Regions from separate parts of the Homo sapiens genome. Here regions 1, 3 and 4 are each linked to region 2. Evidence: fine-mapped expression QTL. A gene starts in region 2. Each other region holds a variant in brackets. All regions are shown on one strand. Distances are from middle to middle.

What was found. PIP is the estimated chance that this variant, and not a neighbour inherited with it, causes the effect. A credible set is the group of variants that fine-mapping cannot tell apart.
Region 1: its variant is the best candidate, but not a certain one, in a credible set for the expression of PTCD1 in pancreas (GTEx, PIP 0.69).
Region 3: its variant is the best candidate, but not a certain one, in a credible set for the expression of PTCD1 in lung (GTEx, PIP 0.75).
Region 4: its variant is the best candidate, but not a certain one, in a credible set for the expression of PTCD1 in whole blood (TOPMed, PIP 0.61).

Annotation. Positions count from the first base shown.
Region 1 is chr7:99,667,009-99,672,457 of GRCh38, reverse strand. CYP3A5 (cytochrome P450 family 3 subfamily A member 5) reads left to right here. Exons shown (of 13, transcript NM_000777.5): 5 at 5,393-5,449. It also overlaps a transcript of ZSCAN25 not described here. Among named protein-coding and RNA genes, the nearest start is that of CYP3A5, 10 kb to the left of the region's middle. The variant A/C (reference allele first, on the strand shown) is at 2,373.
Region 2 is chr7:99,435,625-99,441,073 of GRCh38, reverse strand. PTCD1 (pentatricopeptide repeat domain 1) reads left to right here and starts at 2,276. Exons shown (of 8, transcript NM_015545.4): 1 at 2,276-2,382. The region is part of intron 2 of ATP5MF-PTCD1 (ATP5MF-PTCD1 readthrough); the gene reads left to right. It overlaps CPSF4 (cleavage and polyadenylation specific factor 4), which reads right to left and starts at 2,131. Exons shown (of 8, transcript NM_006693.4): 1 at 1,889-2,131. The coding sequence starts at 1,991. RefSeq lists a silencer at 1,837-2,136 and enhancers at 2,397-2,686, 3,983-4,508.
Region 3 is chr7:99,524,552-99,530,000 of GRCh38, reverse strand. It overlaps ZKSCAN5 (zinc finger with KRAB and SCAN domains 5), which reads right to left. Exons shown (of 7, transcript NM_145102.4): 6 at 3,583-4,188. Among named protein-coding and RNA genes, the nearest start is that of ZKSCAN5, 23 kb to the right of the region's middle. The variant T/C (reference allele first, on the strand shown) is at 2,746.
Region 4 is chr7:99,462,617-99,468,065 of GRCh38, reverse strand. ATP5MF-PTCD1 (ATP5MF-PTCD1 readthrough) reads left to right here and starts at 1,899. Exons shown (of 9, transcript NM_001198879.2): 1 at 1,899-1,937. The coding sequence starts at 1,925. ATP5MF (ATP synthase membrane subunit f) reads left to right here and starts at 1,899. Exons shown (of 4, transcript NM_004889.5): 1 at 1,899-1,955. The coding sequence starts at 1,925. RefSeq lists enhancers at 1,711-1,830, 1,497-2,112, 2,113-2,730. The variant T/G (reference allele first, on the strand shown) is at 2,784.

The DNA of each region.
Region 1 (5,449 bases), 230 kb before region 2:
TCATCCTGTCCCGCCCAGTGGTAACATCTTGCAATCTTGTATATTGCAATATATATCTAGTATATTCATATTATCAGGTTGGCACAAAAGTTAAAATGGCAAACTACAGGCTGGGCATAATGGCTCATGCCTGTAATCCCAGCACTTTGGGAGGCCGAGGCAGGTGGATCACGAGGTCAGGAGTTCGAGATCAGCCTGACCAACATGGTGAAACCCCATCTCTACTAAAAATACAAAAATTAGCTGCGTGTGGTGGCATGCGCCTGTAGTCCCAGCTACTCAGTAGTCTGAGACAGGAGAATCGCTTGAACCTGGGAGGCGGAGGTTGCAGTGAGCCGAGATCACGCCATTATACTCCAGTCTGGGCAACCCAATGAGACTCCATCTCAAACAACAACAACAACAACAACAACAAAAACCGGCAAACTGCAATAACTTTTGCACCAACCTAATACTATAGTACAGGAAATTGACTTTGATATAGTTTACAGAGCTTTTCAGATTTCACCAGTTTTACATGCCCTTGTTTGTGTGTGTTTATGTGTGTGGGTAGTTCTAAGCAATTTTTCACATTCGTAGATTTGTGCAACGACCAGCACCATCAAGATGCAGACCCATTCCGTCACCATGTGGCTCCCTCCTGCTGTCCTACAGTCACAACATGGAGTTTGTCTTTTTCTCTGACAGGTTCTATATCAGAGCAAACTTTTATTTATTTGAGGAGGCCAATGTATTAATATTTCCTTTTATGGATTGTTCTTTTGGTGTTAAGTCTGAAAATCCTTTGCTTAGCCCTCCTTCCTACATTGCTTTTTCTAAGAGTTATATAGTTTAACACTTTACAAAATGTAACTCTATTACCCATTTTGTGTTAATATTTGCATAAGTTATGAGATTTAGATCAAGGTTCATTTTCTGTGGACTATGGCTGTCCAAATGTTCCAACACCATTTTGGAAAGGTAGGCATATTGTCAAAACTCAGCTGAGTATATTTTGTGAATCTATTTCTTATTGTTTACTCCTCCACTAATACCACACTGTGGTGACTCTAGTAGCTGTACAGTAACTCTTAACATCATATAGGGCAATTCTTTCCACTTTATTGATTTATATTTTCAGAATGGCTTTAGCTTTTCTTGTCCCTTGCCTTTCCATAAAAATTCAGAATAAGCTTGTAAGTGTCTACAAACAAACCTGCCATAATTTTGATAAGAATTAAAGCAGAGGTGTCCAATCTTTTGGCTTCCCTGGGCCACAGTGGAAGAAGAAGTGTCGTGGGCCACACATAAAATACACACACACACACACACACACACACACACACACACACACACACACAAATGGTCTGTGTATAGTTTTCATTATATATCTACCACCACAGATAAGCAAAAATGTCCTTGCATAATAATCCTAATTATGCACTGCCCCATTCAGAGGGTCTTTCAAAATCATTGAACAGGTTCCAAGTTTGCAATCACTGATACAGAAAATGTACATATCTAGCTAAACTTCACTACTTTTTTGATATTTTTTATTATAAAAGAAAAGAGAACAACATAAAACTAGTGGGGTACTTGACATTGTTTTTGAGAAACTAATCCATCAGTATCTGGCTTGATGGAAGTAGTTGCAATTCTCAGTGAGTTCTCAAGGTGCTCATCAGATATTTTGGTTCTAATTTTACTCTTCGTGTTCTTCATCCTTGAAAATAGTAGCTCACAAATGTAAGTGCTGCCAAAAAGCAATGACATGAACAAGGTGTGATTGTGAAGCAAGGGATATTTGTCATTGGGAAGACAGGTCTTACAAAAGTCCAGTAAAGAGGCAAAATCAAATTTTTCTATAAGTTGAACATCAGATTGCAGCTCTAGGCATTCCATTTCAAAATTGCCAGGTAACATATATATGTCGACTGAAAATGGAGTTGCAAATATACCAAAATATTGATGATTTTTTCAGAAATCTTGAAATACCTGTTTTCAAATTCCTGTATCAAATTGAAAAGCAAGGCTGCGTATTTTTGGCTGTTCACAGGACCATGTTTAGCCAACATGTCGAAATGCATAAAATTGTTTGCCTTAATTTGAGCTTGCCATAATTTCAGTTTCATATGGAATGCTGTTATGGTTTGAAACATTGTATTGTTAAGTTGGTTTTCAACTTGAAGACACAGGTTTAACTCACTTAAATGGGCCGTCAAACCCACTAAAAATGCTAAATCTGTAAGCCAGTTTTCATTGTCAAGTTCTGGCACCAATTTTGTTTGATACCATAAACAGCTTGATTTCACATCACAAAGCATAAAATCTTTACATTTTGCCTTGACTTAACCATCTTACTTCTAAAAAGTGAATGACTTGCTAGAGTCAGC[A/C]TCCATACTTTTAAGGAATTCCTGAAACTAGCGATGATTCAATTCCTGGGCCCTTGTGAAATTTACAGCCTTGATGACAATTTGCATGACGTTATCTACTTTTAAAGCTTGTGCACATGGATTTTCTTGATGTATTATGCAATAATACTTCATCAAATGTGAGTTTTGTGTGGCAACTGCATCATCTATTAATTGTACAAGTCCCTCTCTTTTACCTACCATCGCCAGGGCAGCATCTGTAGCTATATCACATATGTTTACAAAGGACAAAGAAAATTGCTTTAACATATTTTTCACTGCTTCATATAAATCTCTTGATTTAGTTGTGTCTTTTAATAGCATGGTGACATTTCGATTTCTTCAGTGACATTATATTCATCATCAATACCTCTAATAAAAATAGCAAGTTGTGCCGTATCTGTAGTGTCAGTGCCTTCATCCATCACCAAAGCATAAAATTTTAAATTAGCAGTTTTACTCTCCAAACGTCTTTCAATAGATTTCCCAATTTCTCCAATTCTCCTGGCTATAGTCTGGTGAGACAAACTGATTTTAGAAATATCAGTTTCTCAAGGCAAATAATATCTACCACATCTTCCAGACATTGCTTAATAAACTCACCATCAGTAAATGGTTTTGATTTTTTTGCTATTAAATTTGCTACCACATAACTAGGTTTTACCTTACGATTGAGTCCGAGTTGTAACTTTTTAAAAAATCTTTTTTGTTGAAAAGACAGACTTTTTTTCAGTTCTGCTATTTTGTCCTTACAACACATACACACCAAATTTGTCAGCACGTTTTTGCATATAATGCCTCTTCAAATTGTAGTCTTTGAAAACTGGCACAAATTCCGTGGAAATTAAGCAGAGTGCTTCGCTATTTGCCTCAACAAGAAAAAGTCATTTGTCCACTTTTCATTGAACAATCTTCCTTCATCCATAATTTTTGTTTTTTAGGGTTTTCTTTTTAAGACATTGTGGAAGCCATTCTGGAATTAAAAGCATTATAATAGATAAGCAACTATATTTACTTTTATTATGGAAATTAACAGATAGGAAAATAGAACAGAAAGCAAGGTTTAATAATCAAATAAGAATACTTACATGTCTTCTAAATAATATTAAACACCTATCATCTACAAAGGTAGGTTGAAATATTATTGATAATTGCTGGGTTTTACTTGCCAAATTGCCACAAACACACCTAATACCTGACAGTGTCAATTCAACTGTCCGTGATTAGAAGATAACACACTGGAAGTCGCACACCACCATAAAACTGAAGCCACACATGCGTACAAATGGCGACAGTGTCTGGTGTACAGCAGCGCTCTGCCTTGTCCAGAATACACACTTGAATTCTTTGTCACAATTCACTTCACGTGGCACTGCAATAGCGTCCTCTCGCTCTTTGTTAGTTAATTTTAATGGCTTTTAATTTCTTCTTGCTGAACTGTTTGCAATTATAATGCAAATTATGGATACTAGTCCATTATTTGTGGATGTGACATACTCTGATTACCCCTTTCCATTCCATTGTTGTCTACGAAGTTCACACTTGAGAATCACATAGTCAAATTACAAAATTACAAAAAAAATTGCAAAAAAACTCAAAATGTTTTAAGAAAGTTTCCACATTTGTATTGGGATACATTCAAAGCCATCCTGGACTGCATGAGGCCTGCAGGCCACAAGTTGGACAAGCTTGAATTAAACCAATAGAACAATTTGGGTATAATCTATATCTTTACTATGTTCAGCCTTTCATCCCGTGAATATAGTATGCCTCTCCATTTCTTTAGCTTTTATTACTTTCCTCAACATTTTATAGTTTTCAGCATAGAGGTCCTGTACATCTTTTGTTAGATTTACACCAGAAATATTTCATTTTTGTTGGAGTAACTGTAAATGATACTGTTTTTCTTGTATTTTCAGATATTGATTATTGTTACATAGAAATGTGAATAATTTTGTTTGTTGATCTTGTATCCTATAGCCTTGCAGAACTTACCTATTCGTTCTAGAAATTTTTTTGTATATTCCTTGACATTTTATACATTGACAATTATGTCACCTGAAAATAGAGACAATTCTATTATTTCCTTTCCAATCTGTATGCCTTTTATTTCTTTTTCTTGTCTAGTGTATTAAGACATCAGGTATGCTCTTTAGTAAGAATGTTGAGAGTGGGCATTTTTTAGTTCTTCTTGATCTTGGAAAAACCATTCAGTCCTTCATCATTAAATGTGATTTAACTGAATGATTTTTTTACAGATTGTCTTTATCAAATGAAGGAACTGTCTCTCTCTTCCTAGTTTATTGAGATTTTATCATGACAGCTGGAAGTACACATTTTAAAACAAAACATAGTTGTGGAAGATAAGAGAAAGTTCCAAGCATGCTGGCTTGATAGTCCAGCCCCAAGTTGGGAAAAGTAATTATCCCTTTCTTTTTCCTTCTATTTATGGAATAAAAAATTAAGAGAAAAGAATTTTCAAGGAAATTGCATTATTCCTTCAAAACAGGTTTCTAGTCTTTAAGTATTACCTACTTTTCAAAAAAAAATCACCACATCATGGCATCCCTTTTTCAAGTTGCCCATGCTGTAGGTGTATTAAAGACAGAGCTGGTCTGAGGCAACATACAGTCTGCCCATCTGTCACCAATCCTTTTCTACTCTGCACACTCCTGGGGAAGGGCTAGGTCTTGTTCCTGTCTATTCCACTGGAAGAACAGTTCCCTACCACGTGGAGCATTTGCAATTAAAAGGAGACTGAGATATAGAGGCAGGAGACCACACCAGATGGCTGGGTCTCCCCACTCCCACCCCCGCCCCACATACACTCAGAAGAGGCTAGGCATCTAGGATCTCCATTGAGCATCTTGAATATGGCTTGCCATAATATCATATACAGTCAATAAATATTTGTTAAATAAGGATGCCTCTTCAATATATTTTGTGCAACCATGAAGATCACCACAACTAATGTGAGAAAAAATGTTTCTGTTGAACTCTAGTCTTTAGGCCCAGTGGGATTTATGAAAAGTGCCATCTCTTTAGCTGAGGATGAAGAA
Region 2 (5,449 bases):
GAGGCCAAGGCAGCAGAACTGCTTGAACCTGGGAGGTGGAGGTTGCAGTGAGCCGAGATCGCACCATTGCACTCCAGCCTGGGTGACAAAAGCAAAACTCTGTCTCAAAAAAAAAAAAAAAAAAAAGACAGGAAAAGGCCACATGTGCAGGGATGATCACAAGAGTCGAGGGGTAGGTAAGAGGGGGTGTGTGTGTGTGAATTTGAGCAGCTGCTTTTTAGGGAGTGTACAGTGGTGATGGTGTTTGTGCCTGTGTCAAATAGGGTGGTCTGATGATGTCTCCTTATAAGCACTATCTTGTCTTCTTGAAGACTTAATTAATTTCCAATGAAACTATCTTGTACAGAACTATCACCATGTAAAGTTGTGGGACAGGCAGGAAAAAAAAAAAAAAAAAAATATATATATATATATATATGCCAGGTGCAGTGGCTCATGCCTATAATCCCAGTACTTCCGAAGGCCGAGGTAAAAGGATCACTTGAGCCCAGGAGTTCAAGACCAACCCTGGGAAACATGATGAAATAGTGTCTCTACCAAGAAATACACACAAAAAAATTTGCCAGGCGTGTTGGTGCATGCCTGTGGTCCCAGCTACTTGGGAGACTGAGGTGGGAGGATTGCTGGAGCCTGGGAAGTCGAGGCTGCATTGAGCCATGATTGCGTCACTGCACCCAGCCTGGGCGACAGAGGGGCCCCTGTCTCAAAAGCAAACAAACAACAACAACAAAAACACATAAAGGGACAGACTCAGAGGTCACATGTGCATGAGAAGGTGTGACCGCCTGAGGGGAGTGAGGCTGCTGGGAGCGGTGGGAGACCCCGCTGGTAGTTGTGGGCGACAGCACACAACACTGGAGAGCTTGCCCGCCTCTGCTATGCACTGAGTGATTGTCAGCAAGTCCCTTCCCCCGCTTGGGTCTCAGTTTCCCCATCTGTGGATTGAACTCAGTGACTTCCACAAGCCCCCAAACTTTAAGGTTATAGCATTAGATTTCAAGTATGTCCAGATAGGAAAGAAGACACAAAGAAAACTACTGGTTTCTTTTAAAGTACAAGATATCCCACCGAGTAGGAGGTGGGAAGCCAGGAGCCACCATATGAAGGGGAGCAGTGAAGGGAGTTCAGGCCAAGGGTCCACACCAGCTGCTGGGTGTGATGAATAACTCAGAGTTGGGGTCCAGAAAAAAGTAGGGACGGGCCAAAAACTAGGGATGAGCTCCCAGGAGAGTGAGTCCTAGAAGGGAGTTTGAGAGTCTAGCTGGGGTCTCCTACAGAAAGGTGGTCCTTCCCTCAGCACATCTCCTCCAACCGCCTAGTTTTGATGAAATCAAGAAGAGACGCTCAACGTAGCGGGTGTGATATCCTAGTACTCTCCTGCAGTTGGGAGAGTGTTGAGGGAGAGTTCCAATCCAGGATAACCCACCCTTATTCAAGAATTAAGCGAACAGACAAGGTCTACCCTCCTACAGATTACCTTTGAACAGCCGCAGAGGGCCAAAGATCCGAGGCAGTGAACTCCTGAGTCCGAGTGAGGGTAAAAGGAGTCCCCAGACGGTGGAAATGGGGGCCTGGGAGTCAGGAGTCCTGAAACCAAGGGGAGCGTCCCGGGATCCAGAAGAGGAGGTCTCAGGATGGAGTGGGAAGAGTCTCGGGACCACAGATGAGGGAGTTCGGTAACTAAAGGGGAGGATCCCAGGACCCGGAGGAGGTGGGAGGGACTCTCAAGACCTAGAGGGAGGAGTCCTGCGACCAAAGGGGAGGGGTCCCAGGATCCAGAGGAAGCCGGGGGAGGTCTCAGGACCGAGGCGAGGGAGTCCCGGGATCACAGAGGAGCGGGTCCCGGGTTCGAGTCGCTCTTGCCCTCCCGCCCGGGCCCCGCGCTCACTGTCCATGCCGGGGAAGGGCAGCGGCTGCGCCCCCAGCTGCTGCTCCACCGCGATCTCCAAGTCAAACTTGATGTGGTCCACGCTGGCGATGATTTCCTGCATGGCGGCGGCGGCGGCCCCACCGGCCCGGCTCCCCCTCGGTCTCCTGCAGCCTTCTCGCCTTTACCCGCCGCCGGCCCCGCCGCACACACTCCTCCTTCGCTTCGCCTCGCCGCCGCCGCCGCCGCCGCCCGAGGGATGCCGGGAGCGCCCGGAGCCCGCGCCGGCCCTTGCGCCTGTCCAGGCACTGCCAATCGAGACTCCGCCGTTCCGCTAGTCCCAGCTAGCCGCCAGCCGAACACCGGCCTCGCCAGAAACCTGAAACCAGCCGCGTGAGTCGGCGACGCGGATTGCGCCTGCGCGCTTGGGGAGAGGGGGACCCGAGGAAGAGACTGGTTCGCCGCGGGGACCGGGCAGGGCTCCCCGTCGGAGTGCACTGCGCCGGACACTTCAAGTGAGTTCCTGTGTGATCCTCGCAGGAGCCCCGGGACCCGGGCCAAGACACGCCAGAGGGGAAGGAAGTGCCCGAGCCGGGATTGGAGCCGGGGGCGTCTGAGGAGGGAAACTGAGGCTGCAGAAGTCCGTGTGGAGAGGGGTCGGCGTTGGCCTGAGGGTCCGGGTGGGCCTCTGAGGAGGGGCGGGTCTCTCCGAGGAAGGACGGCCGCAGCGTGTCTCTAATTCAGGGTTTTTTCTCGCTCTGTGGCCCAGGCTGGAGTACAGGGGTACGATCATAGCTCACTGCAGTCAACTTCTCAGACTCAAGCGATCCTCCCACCTCAGCCTCCCGAGTAGCTGGAACTACAGACGCTGCACCACCACACTTGGCTAATTTTTAAAATTTTATTTTTAATTTTTGTAGAGACGGCGGGGTTGGGGGGGCGGGTGGCGGGTCTTGCTATGTTGCCCAGGCTGGTCTCGAACTCCTGGCCCCAAGCCCAAAGCGATCCTCCTGCCTGGGCCTCCCAAAGTGCTGGAATTGCAGGCATGAGCCACTATACAGCCTAATTCAGGGTTTTTTTTAACCAGGGTGGGGTAATGAGCTTGTGTAGGAACAAAATGCACCCCTATTTTTCTCTATGTGAAGTATAGCATTTCCTTTCCTGATTGCTGGAGCAGCCTTAGCAGTGCCTGAAACTGTGAGGGTGAGTGTAAATGATAGTTCCAGATAACAGTTTGTGCAGGGCCAGGCATGGTGGCTCACACCTGTAACCTCAGCACTTTGGGAGTCTGAGGCGAGAGGATCACGTGAGGTCAGGAGTTCGAGACCAGCCTGGACAGGATGGCAAAACCCCGTCCCTACTGAAAATATAAAAATTGGCCTGGAGTAGTGGCGCGTTCCTGTAATCCCAGCTACTTGGGAGGCTGAGGCATGAGCATGGCTTAAACCCGGGAGGCAGAGGTTGCATTGAGCCGAGATTGTACCACCCCACTCCAGCCTGGTGACAGAGTGAGACGCAAAAAAACCCAGTTTGTGCAGCAACTACAAGGTGGTATCTTAAGCTGTCACTTACATTTATTACTGCTTTGAAATTATGATAGAGTCGGCCGGGCGCGGTGGCTCACGGCTGTAATCCCAGCACTTCGGGAGGCCGAGGCGGGCGGATCACAAGGTCAAAAGATCCAGACCATCCTGGCCAACATGGTGAAACCCTGTCTCTACTAAAAATACAAAAATTAGCTGGGCTTGGTGGCATGCGTCTGTAGTCCCAGCTCCAGGGGAGGCTGAGGCAGGAGAATCGCTTGAATCCGGGAGGCGGAAATTGCAGTGAGCCGAGGTCACGCCTGAGGACAGAGTGAGAGACTGTCTCAAAAAAAAAAAAAGAAAAGAAAAGAAATTATGATAGGGTCTTGTTATTTCATGCATTGAAAATAAGCATCTATACTAGTATAGCAGAAATTTGTTTTTAAAGCATTTTGATGCCATTTCAATATCATTGCTTTTTGTTTTGTAATTCTGTGTATTGTAATTAATGCACGTAAGGCAGGGCATGGAGGCTTACGCCTGCAATCCCAACACTTTGGGAGGCCAAGGCTGGAGGATTGCTTGAGGCCAGGAGTTCTAGACCAGCCTGGCAACATAGGGAGACTCCATCTCTACAAAAAAATACAAAAAATTAGACAGGTATGGTGGTGTGCACCAGTAGTGCTAGTTAATTGAGAGGCTGAGGTAGGAGGATCACTTGAGCCCAGGAGTTGGAGGTTGCAGTGATTGTGCATTTGCACTCCACTGTGCCATCGCACTCCAGCCTGGGCAACATGAAGACCCCATTCCACAAAAAAGAAAATTACATAAACACCATGCTTGTAAGAAGGAGTGGCAGGGCTTGCCAGATGCAGAATGATAAAGGCCCCCTGCACTAGTTTCACAAAAGGTGCTGGTCAGGACAATCATCAATGCGTTACATGGACCTGAGTTCAAAGCCAGCCCAGCCCAAGCTGGCCAGTCTCACCCACTGCACTGCTGCAGGACCCCAGCAAGTCTCTCCCCTTGCTGGGCCTAGTTTTTTGTTTGTTGTTGTTGTTGTTGTTTTGAGATGGAGTCTTGCTCTGTCGCTCAGGCTGGAGTGCAATGGCGCGATCTTGGCTCACTGCAACCTCTGCCTCCCACGTTCAAGTGATTCTCCTGCCTCAGCCTCCCAAGTAGCTGGGATTACAGGGGCACGCTGTCACGCCCAGCTAATTTTTATATTTTCGGCAGAGATAGGGTTCACCACGTCAGGCTGGTCTCGAACTCCTGACCTGAGGGGATCCACCCACCTTGGCCTCCCAAAGTGCTGGGATTACAGGCGTGAGCCACCGCTCCTGACCTACTGGGCCTAGTTTTTAATCTGTTCAATCTGCCATCACTTGTAAGACTTTTCCAATCGCAACCTTCTAATATAACCAGACTCTAAAATACTTTAGGCTGGGCATGGTGGCTCATTGCTGTAATCCCAGTGCTTTGGGAGGTCGAGGCGAGAGGATTGCTTGAGTCCAGGAGTTCAAGACCAGCCTGGGCACATAGCAAGACCCTGTCTCTACCAAAAAATAAAATTAGCCAGGCATAGTGGCTCACACCTGTAGTTCCAGCTACTCGGGAGGCTGAAATGGGAGGATCGCTTGAGCACAGGAGGGTGGGGCTGCAGTGAGCTATGTCTGACCTGAACCTAGGCTTTCTAACCTCTGGGCCCATACTTCTTATTTTATTTATTATTATTATTTTTTTTTTTTTCTGAGACAGAGTCTCACTGTCACTCAGGCTGGAGTGCAGTGGCGCGATCTCAGCTCACTGCAAGCTCCGTCTCCTGGGTTCAAGCGATTCTCCTACCTCAGTCTCCTCAGTAGCTGGGATTAGACGTGTAGCACCACACCCAGCTCATGTTTTTTGTATTTTTAGTAGAGATGGGGTGTCGCCAGGCTGGTCTTGAACTGATCTGCCCGCCTCGGCCTCCCAAAGTGCTGGGAGTGCAGGCATGAGCCACCGCCCCTGGCCTGTTCTTTTTCTTTCTTTCTTTTCTTTTTTTTTTCGAGACAGAGTCTCA
Region 3 (5,449 bases), 89 kb before region 2:
GAACTTTGGGAAGCCGAGGTGGGTGGATCACGAGGTCAGGAATTCAAGACCAGCCTGACCAAGACAGTGAAACCCCATCTCTACTAAAAATACAAAAATTAGCTGGGCATGGTGGTGGGTGCCCTGTAATCACAGCTACTCCAGAGGCTGAGGCAGAGAATTGCTTGAACCCAAGAGGCAGAGGTTGCAGTGAGCCAAGATTGCGCCACTGCACTCCAGCCTGGGCAACACAGCGAGACTCCATCTCAAAAAAAACAAAGAAGTCAAAAAACAATAGATGTTGGCATGGATGTGGTGAAAAGGGAACGCTTATACATTGCTGGTGAGAGATAAATTAATACAACTTCTGTGGATAACAGTATGGAGACTTCTTCAAGAACCAGAAGTAGATCTGCCATTTGATCCAGCAATTCCACAACTGGGTATATCTACACAAAGGAAAAGACAATATACCAAAAAGACTGTAAGCGCCTGTCTTCTGCAGCACAATTCACAACTGCAAAGATATGGAGCCAATCTAAGTGCCCGTTGAGCAATGAGTTGATAAAGAAAATGTAGCAGGCTGGGTGTGGTGACTCGTGCCTATAATCCCAGCACTTTGGGAGGCTGAGGCAGGTGGATCACCTGAGGTCAGGAGTTCAAGACCAGCCTGACCAACATGGTAAAACCTCATCTCTACTAAACATACAAAAATTAGCAAGGGATCGTGGTAGGTGCCTGTAGTCCCAGCTACTCGGGAGGCTGAGGCAGAAGAATCGCCTGAACCCAGGAGGCAGAAGCTGCAGTGAGTTGAGATCACATCACTGCACTCCAGCCTGGGTGACAGAGTGAGACTCCATCTCAAAAAAGAAAAACAAAAAACAAATACATAACTGGGTGGTGAGAACTGACAAAAACTGGAAGAATGAGAGTGAAGGATGATGAAGAGGGTATGCAGTCAGGGAATATCTGACTAGGAGTCAGGAAATAAGGCAAAATGAGCCAACAAGAAGCATTGTCAGAGGGTGGGTGATACAGCAATCCCTGCCCCCTTCACCCTTAGCCAACATTCTAGCCTCAGTTTTCCTCCCCCGGCATGTCATCCTTCTCCTTTGGGAATGCTCATCACCTTTACTATCTGCTACCCCCACCAGACCATCGGCTGCATGAGAGCATGGACTGTATCTCTGTTCTGGTCACTGCAGATCCTGTGCAACTAGCAACACAGACTCTCAATAATATGGCTGGATGTGCAAAACATGTATTCCCCCTTTGATCCAGAAAAATGAGGGAGGACCGGGCATGGTGGCTCACACCTGTAACTCCTAGCACTTGTGGAGGCCAAGGCTGGAGGATCGCTTAAGCCTAGAAGTTCAAGACCAGCCTGGGCAACAGAGCCAGACCCCTTCTCTACAAAAAATACATAAATTAGCTGGGTGTGGTGGTGAACACTTGTAGTCCCAGCTATGCAGGAAGCTGAGGTGGGAGGATTAGTTCAGCCCAGGAAGTGGAGGCTGCAGTGAGCTGAGATCCCGCTACTTTACCCTAGCCTGTGTGACAGAGCAAGACCCTATCTCAAAATACAAAAACGCCCCCGCCCCACAAAAAAAATGTGGAAGGCAAGTGAGTATTCACTGGGAAACTAGCCATAGAAACAATTGCAGGGAAGGTAGAAAACAAAAGATAACTATTTTAAAGCGATTGCTTTTTCAAGTCCAAAGCGCTATTGGTGGATTTTCCAAATGAGGGAATCATCGAGTAGAACGGGAAAACACTAGCTGAGAGGATAGCTCAGCTCAAACCCAGAACTTTAAAGACACTTTACTGACTTCTGTGCCATGGTGGAAGATGCAGCGTGGCTGTAAACATCAAAGGCAGAATTAAAAAAAAAAAAAAAAAAAAGAAAAACATTTTGGCTGGTCTTAGAATCATCTGAAGAATATTAGTAAGGGCCTTTAAGTTCACAGCACAGTTTATGACGATCTCATTCACAGATAAATTTACTGTCATTTGAACAGATGTTTAAAAATACTGGCCCGGCATGGTAGCTCACACCTATAATCCCAGCACTTTGGGAGGCCAAGGCGGGTGGATCACTTGAGGTCAGGAGTTCGAGACCATCCTGGCCAATATAGTGAAACCCCATCTCTACTAAAAATACAAAAAAAAATTAGCCAGGTATGGTGGCAAATGCCTGTAATCTCAGCTACTCAGGAGGCTGAGGCACGAGAATCGCTTGAACCTGGGAGGCAGAGGTTGCAGTGAGCTGAGATCGTGCCATTGCACTCCAGCCTGGGCAACAAGAGTGAAACTCCGTCTCAAAAAAAGAAAAGAAAAGAAAAAAAGAAAAAGTCACAGGCATAAACAGTTATCGGGACAAAAGAGAAAAAAATTGAAGTTCAACAACTGGGAACACTTGAGTAAATTACAATGCCACCACACAATGGCAGACTGTCAGAAATAAAAAGGAGGGCTGAACAGCCCTGGAAAATGTGTACGCTTAATATTTAATTCTGAGTACGACTACGTGAAACAGACTTATAAAAAAAAAAGGAAACATACTAAGTAATAACAGTTCTATTAGTTAGGGTGATGTGATTATGGGTGATTTATTTTTTCTTTTTATTTTCTCCAAGCTTCCTGTACTACTGTTATTTTATTGGGTTTGTGTTTGTTTGTTATTTGAGAAGTCTCACTCTGTTAGCCAGTCTGGAGTGCAGTGGCTATTCACAGACACATTTATAGCTCACTGTAGTCTTGAACTTC[T/C]GGGCTAAGAGATCCTCCCACCTCAGCCTTCCGAGGAGCTGCAACTACAGGCACATGCCACCATGCCCAGGTAATTTTTAAATTTTTTTGTAGAGACAAGGTCTTGCTATGTTGCCCAGGGTGGTCTTGAATGCCTGGCCTCAAGTAATCCTCCTAGCTCAGCCGCCTCCCAAAGCACTGAGATTACAGGTGTGAGCCACTGTACCCAGGCTATTGTTTTAAAATAAGTAAAATAACTAAATTGGGAAAAGGGGAAAGAGAGAAAAGCATATAAGAGAGCCAAATCCTCATTTACTACCATAGAAAGTCAACAGATAACATTTAAAATTGATGAGCCAACTAATAATAGTTTTATTTTAAAATACAGAATTACCAGAAGGAACCACTAACAGCTGAGAGCACAGCCAGCACAGTGGCTCATGCCTGTAATCCCAGCACTTTGGGAGGCCAAGGCAGGCAGATCGCCTGAGGTCAGGAGTTCAAAACCAGCCTAGCCAACATGGGGAAACCCTGTGTCTACTAAAAACACAAAAATTACCCGGGCATGCTGGTGCGCGCCTGTTGTCCCAGCTACTTGGGAGGCTGAGGCAGGAGAATCGCTTGAACCGGGGAGGCAGAAGTTGCAGTGAGCTGAGATCTCGCCACTGCACTCCAGCCTGGGCGACAGAGCGAGACTGTCTCAAAAAATAAATACATAAGAACCAAATAAACGATAACCTTTGCCTCTTCCTACCCCCCCCAGTATCACCACCCATCTGTCCTGTTGTACCGTACTAATAAAACACCTTTTGCTTTTCGCCTCCATTTATCCCCCGGATATAAACTCCTCACACGTACATCTCTGGGATTTCTCCCTGAAGTGGCGTTTTAGGTGTTCGATCAGATGCGAATGGCGACCGAAGTTCTTCCCACACTCATTGCAGCCATAGGGCCTCTCTCCGCTGTGGACACTGTGGTGCTGAACCAGGTGGGAACTCACCCGGAAAGCCTTTCCGCACACCTGACATTTGTAGGGTTTCTCCCCTGTGTGGACGCGCTGGTGCTGGGTGAGGTGCACCCGCTGATTGTAGCTCTTCCCACATTCTCCGCACTTAAACGGTTTTTCTCCAGTGTGGATGCGCCGATGCTGAATAAAGTTTGAGGCTTGGAGGAAGAATTTGCCACAATCGCTGCATCTGTGCCCTCTCTCGCCATGTGTGCTTTGCTTAGGGCTGATGTCTGTGATTGCATCCAGATCCCTTTTCTGGGAAGGATTCTGCCTTGATTTCCCCACAGTGGGGTTGACCTGCCACCTTTGTACCATGCCTTTAAGGTCACTGACTTCTGCAAAGTCTGGATCCTGAGGAACGCTCCTTTCGGTGTGTTCTGGCGCCACCCAGTGTGATTCAGAGTCATCAGAAATCTGCTTCACTATGAGCTCCATATTGTCCCTGGACTCATAACCTGAAATAACAGAGGGAGAATTAAAAAATGAGCTTTTCCTTGAATTTGAAGAAATAAAATGAGGGGATAATGAAGAGAAACTGACATGTGCTAGGGATCCATGATTCTGTAAAGGGACTTTTACAGTACAGGGATGGGATGAAAAATATTCAAGCAGAAAAGTGAGGGAGGTTAGGGAAGGAAGAGCTGGCAAAAAATGTTCAGAGGAAGGAGACTGAAAATCAGTCATTCCACTGAACGAAGAGGGTCTCCTCTCAGTGTGGCACTTACAAATACCTGTATCATGTTAAATGTTCTCTTGTGTGTGTGTGTGTGCGCGCGCGCGTGTATGTGTGTGTTTTGAGACAGGGTCTCACTCTGTCACCCAGGCTGGAGTGCAGTGGGGCAATCATGGCTCACTGCATCCTCAACCTCTTGGGCTCAAGCGATCCTCCCACCTCAGCCTCCCAAGTAGCTAGGACTACAGTTGCACACCACCATGCTCAGCTAATTTTTATATTTTTGTAGAGATGAGGGTCTCATTATGTTGCCCATGCTGGTTTCAAACTCCTGAGCTCAAGTGATCCTCCCACCTCAGCTTCCCAAAGTGCTGGGATTACAGACGTGAGCCAACGCGACTGGGCAATATTCTTTTTTTTTTTTCTTTTGAGACGGAGTCTCACTCTGCCACCCAGGCTGGAGTGCAGTGGCGCGATCTCGGCTGACTGCAACCTCTGCCTCCCGGGTTCAAGTGATTCTTCTGCCTCAGCCTCCCAAGTCACTGGGACTACAGGCGCACATCACCACGCCCAGCTAATTTTTGTAATTTTAGCAGAGACAGGGTGTCACCATATTGGCCAGGTGGTCTCGAACTCCTGACCTAGTGATCTGCCCGCCTCGGCCTCCCAAAGTGCTGGGATTACAGACATGAGCCACCGCGCCCAGTCACGACTGGGCAATATTCTTAATAAAACTGGATAGCAGGTTATGCAGCTAACCCCATCTTCACCTTCCTCTTCCTGTGAATTCATAGCCTAGAAAAGAAAGGTGATCTTTCTAGGTTTCTCAATGCCCAAAGGATTTCAGTTTGGTATGAATTAATCTAAAAGAAAAAAGACATTCTTTCTATATCCTGAGAAGAACCTACTACTTTCAAGAGCTAGGTTAATGTTCAGCAGTCACTGATAGAACCGTGGATGTTTCAGTGGCTATAATTAGTTCCTTTGTTCAACTGTATCAGCAAGATACTTTACTCAAAACACTGATGTTTTAATATGGTTTG
Region 4 (5,449 bases), 27 kb before region 2:
ATGACAGGCGCATATCACCACGCTTGGCTACTTTTTGTATTTTTAGCAGAGATGAGGTTTTGCCATGTTGAGGAGGCTGATCTCGAACTCCTGATCTCAGGTGATCCGCGCACCTTGGCCTCCCAAAGTGCTGGGATTACAGGCGTGAACCACCGCGACCAGCCTGGTTTTTTTTTGTTTGTTTGTTTTTTGTTTTTTTTGAGACAGAGTCTTGCTCTGCCGCCCAGGCTGGAGTGCAGTGGCTTGACCTCCGCTCGCTGCAACCTCCACTTCCCAGGTTCAAGTGATTCTCCTGCCTCAGCCTCCCAAGTAGCTGGAATTGCAGGCACCTGCCACCGCGCTCAGCTAATTTTTTTCGTATTTTCACCATGTTGGCCCGGCTGGTTTTGAACACCTGACCTCAAGTGATCCGCCCACCTCTGCCTCCCAAAGTGCTAGGATTACAGGCGTGAACCACCGCACCTGGCCTGTTTGTTTTGTTTTGTTTTTTTAACCATTTTTAATTCCCACTGGCGATGCTGGCCGTGCTTTCACACACCTATAATTGTATATGCGATTTTCACTGCCTGGGGAGAAGGGAAGCAGACATGGAGGAGCCCCACAATGCCACCTCTGAAACAAGAAATGTAGCAGAATGAACTGAACGAGGGTGGCATTTATTTGGCAAGTTATGACTACAAGACCTGCTCTCGAGGTTGTTTTAAAAATCGGAGGCCCGGCGCGGTGGCTCACGCCTGTAATCCTAGAACTTTGGGAGGCCGAAGCGGGTGGATCACGAGGTCAGGAGATTGAGACCATCCTGGCTAACATGTTGAAACCCCGTCTCTACTAAAAATACAAAAAAATACAAAAAATTAGCCAGGCGTGGTGGTGGGCGCCTGTAGTCCCAGCTACTCGGGAGGCTGAGGCAGGAGAATGGAGTGAACCCCGGAGGTGGAGCTGGCAGTGAGCCGAGATCGCGCCACTGCACTCTAGCCTGGGTGACAGAGCGAGACTCTGTCTCTAAATAAATAAATAAATTAATTAAAATAATCAAAATTGAAGTAGCCCGGGCAGTGTGGTTCATGCCGGCAGTTCCAGTATTTTGGGAGGCCGAGGTAGGAGGAACGCTCGAGGCCAAGAGTTTAAGAGCAGTCTAGGCAACATAGGGAGACGCCTTCTCTACAAAATATAATTAGCTGGGCGTGGTGGCGTGCACCTGTAGTCCCAGCTACTTCGGAGGTGGAGGAAGAACGCTTGAGGCCAGGAGTTCAAGACCAGCCTGAGCAAAATAGAGAGCCTCTACCCCCACTCCTCACCACACTGTTTCCACCAAAAAAAAAAAAAAAAAAAAAAAAAAAAAAAAAAAGCTGGAAGTGGTGATGTGAGCCTGTAGTCCTAGCTACTTGGGAGGCTGAGATGGGTGGATCGCTTGACTCCGGGAGTTCAAGGCTGCAGTCAGCCGTGATCAAGCCACTGTCTGAAAAGTAAATGCTCGTCTGAAAAGTAAAAAATAAAAATAAAAATAGACTGGGCGCGGTGGCTCACGCCGGTAACCCCAGAACTTTGGGAGGCCGAGGCGGGGGGATCACGTGAGGAAAGGAGTTCAAGGCCAGCCTGGCCAACATGGTGAAACCCTGTCTCTACTAAAAATACAAAAATTAGCTTGCTGTGCTGGTGCACGCTTGTAGTCCCAGCGCGGCCTCTTCCCACCTTTTAAGGTAGAGAGCCCAGGCTGAGGCGCCCCTCTCTCTAACTGCAGGACCCTCGGATTTTTGCTGTCCAGGCACCTCGCCCTTCGCTTCATGGCCTTCTAGTAGTTCCAGGGTGTTCGCAGTTGTGACCTGCTTCCCGTGAGCCTCTGCTCTACGCCCCTGGATGGGGCGTGCATTCCCTACCCAGCAGCCCTCGCGCGGTCCGGCACAGCGGACACCAGGACTCCAAAATGGCGTCAGTTGGTGAGTGTCCGGCCCCAGGTAAGGCTGTTTGGACTCCGTGGTGGAAGCAGGAGCCAGGGTCCAGGGTCCAGAGCCACACTGGGAGAGAAGGAAGCTGCGGAGCTGCCTGCCCTTTGCTCAGGCACTTCGCCACGACCTCACTTGAGGCGCGCCAGACCCCGCTCCGCCTGCCCAGGCGCGCCTTCCTGCTGCCCAGGGCCTGCGCCAACCGGGTTAGGCGTGGAGGGTGAAGGCATCTGGGGCACGCGCTTCTGGGCCTGGGAATGCGCCGCCTTGGGCCACTGTTCCTCTTTCCGCTAAGAAATAGCCGCTTCCCTCTCCCGCTGCGACCCAGTTGCTTTGCACTTGAATGTTAGGCGCAGCTTTTGCCCTTTTTTCCCAAGGCTTAAGCTCAGATGAAGCTCCAGGAGGAGCTCAGGACTAGGACTGTACCTGATACCATGTAAGGTTCGATGCATATATGTTGAATCAGAGAGGCGAGGTGACCTGTTCAAGGTCACAACTCGTGCGAGGGCTGAGCTGGTATTCAAACCTGAGGATTCGTGGTAAATGAACTTTATTCTCTAGGACGGCCTTATGACTAGCAGGCTTTTCCGAGACACCCATGTGTAAATCGCTACATTCATCCCGCTGTGCACACTGATGATTTTTGTTTGTTTGTTTTTGAATAGTTAGCCCTAGATGCTCCATAGTAGCCTTGTCAGAGAGTCCTTGTTGGGAAAGTCGATTCCATTTTACAGATGAGGGAAATAACTGTTCGGGATGTGGTGTGGCCTCTCTGAGGTCACACAGCCTGATAGTGGCAGAGTTTTGATTAACACATGTGTGTCTTAGCTCAGTTTCTGG[T/G]TTTTTTTTATCATTTTTTTTTTGAGATGGCGTTTCGCTCTTGTCGCCCAGGGTGGAGTGCAATGGTGTGATCTCGGCTCACTGTAACCTTTGCCTCCTGGGTTCAAGCGATTCTCCAGCCTCAGCCTCCGAGTAGCTGGGATTACAGGCGCAGGCCACCATGCCCAGCTAATTTTTGTATTTTTAGTAGAGACGGGCTTTCACCACGTTGGCCAGGCTAGTCTTGAACCCCTGACCTCAGGTGATCCATGTACCTCGGCCTCCCAAAGTGCTGGGACTACAGGTGTGAGCCACTGCGTTTCTGTATTCTTTTTTTTTGACATGGAGTCTCACGCTGTCGCCCAGGCTAGAGTGCAGTAGCTGATCTCGTCTCTGCAACCTCTGCCTCCCAGGTTCAAATGATTCTGCTGCCTCAGCCTCCCAAGTATCTGGGATTACAGGCACACACCAGTACCTACGCCCGGCTAATTTTTTTTTGTATTTTTAGTAGAGATGGGTTTCGCCACGTTGACCAGGCTGGTCTCAAACTCTTGACCTCAAGTGAGTCACCTGCTTCGACCTCCCAAAGTGTTGAGATTACCAGCGTGAGCCACTGCGCCTGACCTCTGGTTTGTTTTTTTGAGATGGAGTCTCGCTCTGTCGCCCAGGCTGGAGTGCAGTGGCGCGATCTCAGCTCACTGCAAGCTCTGCCTCCCGGGTTCACGCCATTCTCCTGCCTCAGCCTCCTGAGTAGCTGGGACTACAGGCGCCCGCCACCCCGCCCAGCTAATTTTTTGTATTTTTAGTAGAGACAGGGTTTCACTGTGTTAGCCAGGATGGTCTCGATCTCCTGACCTTGTGATCTGCCCACCTCAGCCTCCCAAAGTGCTGGGATTACAGGTGTGAGCCACTGCGCCCGGCCTCCGGCCTCTGTATTCTTAATCTCAGCCTAGAGAAATGAAGAGGGGTTCAGAATAGATGAGAGGGAAGCTGTTTTCCCCTCAGTAAAATGGGCATAATAGCATTCGTCGTACACGGTAGTTGTGTTAAGGAGACAACCTGTGAAAAGTGAACACTGGGGCATTTTGTTTAAGCATAGGGCTGTGGTCAAGAGCTCTGAACTAAGGATCAATCGATTTAGCATGTGAAAGACACTTGGAACGCTGCGTGGCCCACAGTGAGTACTCAGTCGGTGTGAGCTGGTCATCCCAGCCTTTACTTTGTGACCTTTAGGCAGGGTCATGTCACATGCCTGGCCTATTCAGCATCACCCCCGGTGAAGAAATTGGAGTCCATGTCTCTTAGGTATTGATGATCTTTTAGGTAGTGTCTGTCACCAGAGGACAAAGACAGTATTTCATGAGCACATAAAGTGAGGGAAATATGAATTAGCAGCAGTAGATAAGATCGCGGTTGGCAAACTATGGCCAGTGAGTTGGATTTCGTGTGGCCTGTTTTTGTCTGGCCATGAGCTCAGAATGGTTTTTTTGTTTTTATATTTTATTTTTATTTATTTATTTATTTTTTGAGATGGAGTCTTGCTTTTGTCGCCCAGGCTGCAGTGCAATAGCACGATCTCAGCTCAGTGCAACCTCCACCTCCCAGGTTCAAGTGATTCTCCTGCCTCAGCCTCCCAAGTAGCTGGAATTGCAGGTGCCCGCCACCACACCCGGCTAATTTTTGTATTTTTAGTAGAGATGGGGTTTCGCCATTTTGGTCAGGCTGGTCTCAGACTCCTGAGCTCGTGATCCTCCTGCCTTGGCCTCCCAGAGTGCTGGGATTACAGACGTGAGCCACTGTACAGGGCCTAGAATGGTTTTTTGTTTTTATTTTATTTATTATAGAGATGGGGTCTCAAACTCCTGGCCTCAAGCAGTCCTCCCATCTCGGCCAAAGTGTTGGGATTACTGGCGTGAGCCACTGCATTGGGTCATTTTCTGTTTTTAAAAAGATTGTTTAAAAATAAAATAGACTATGCTATGAAGACCTTATGTGGCCTGCAAATCCAAAAATCTTTATTCTCTGGACAACCCCCAGGTTGGATTTAGCACTCAGGAGAGACTTGCTATTTCCATGTGGCTTCATAGTAATGAACAGTATGTTTCCTCTCGAGGATCTGTGGTTCTACAACCATTACTGAGAATCTGTCGTGTACCAAGAAGTGGTGGGGATATTCGCACCTTCAGGTAGCTCATAACCAGGCAGAAAGGTGGTAATAGTTCTCATTTACATAGTACCTAGGGCCAAGTACCAAGGATTTCACAAAGGAGGAAACTGAGAAGGAGTAGTACCTTGCCCAAGGGCACACACCTACAAAATGGCATTAAACCCAGAATGGCACTAGACCCAAGGGTCTGCTCTGTCTCTGAACTCTACTGGGTCTCTTTATGTGACCCAGTGATTGCAGATGGAAGCTTCAGTGCTGCAGAGGAGCGGGTGTGTGTAGAGTTGGGGTGGGAGTTCCAATAGGGCAACCAAGGACTGAGGCCTTCCTTTGCCTTCCAGTGAAAGAGAAATTCGTGGAATAAGTATAGATGCATCTTGGATGAACTGGATAGTCCCTTGCAGTGGCACGATCTTGGCTCACTGCAACCTCTACCTCCCAGGTTTAAGCGATTCTCCTGTCTCAGCCTCCCGAGTAGCGGGGACTACAGGCACACGCCACCATGCCCAGCTAATTTTTGTAT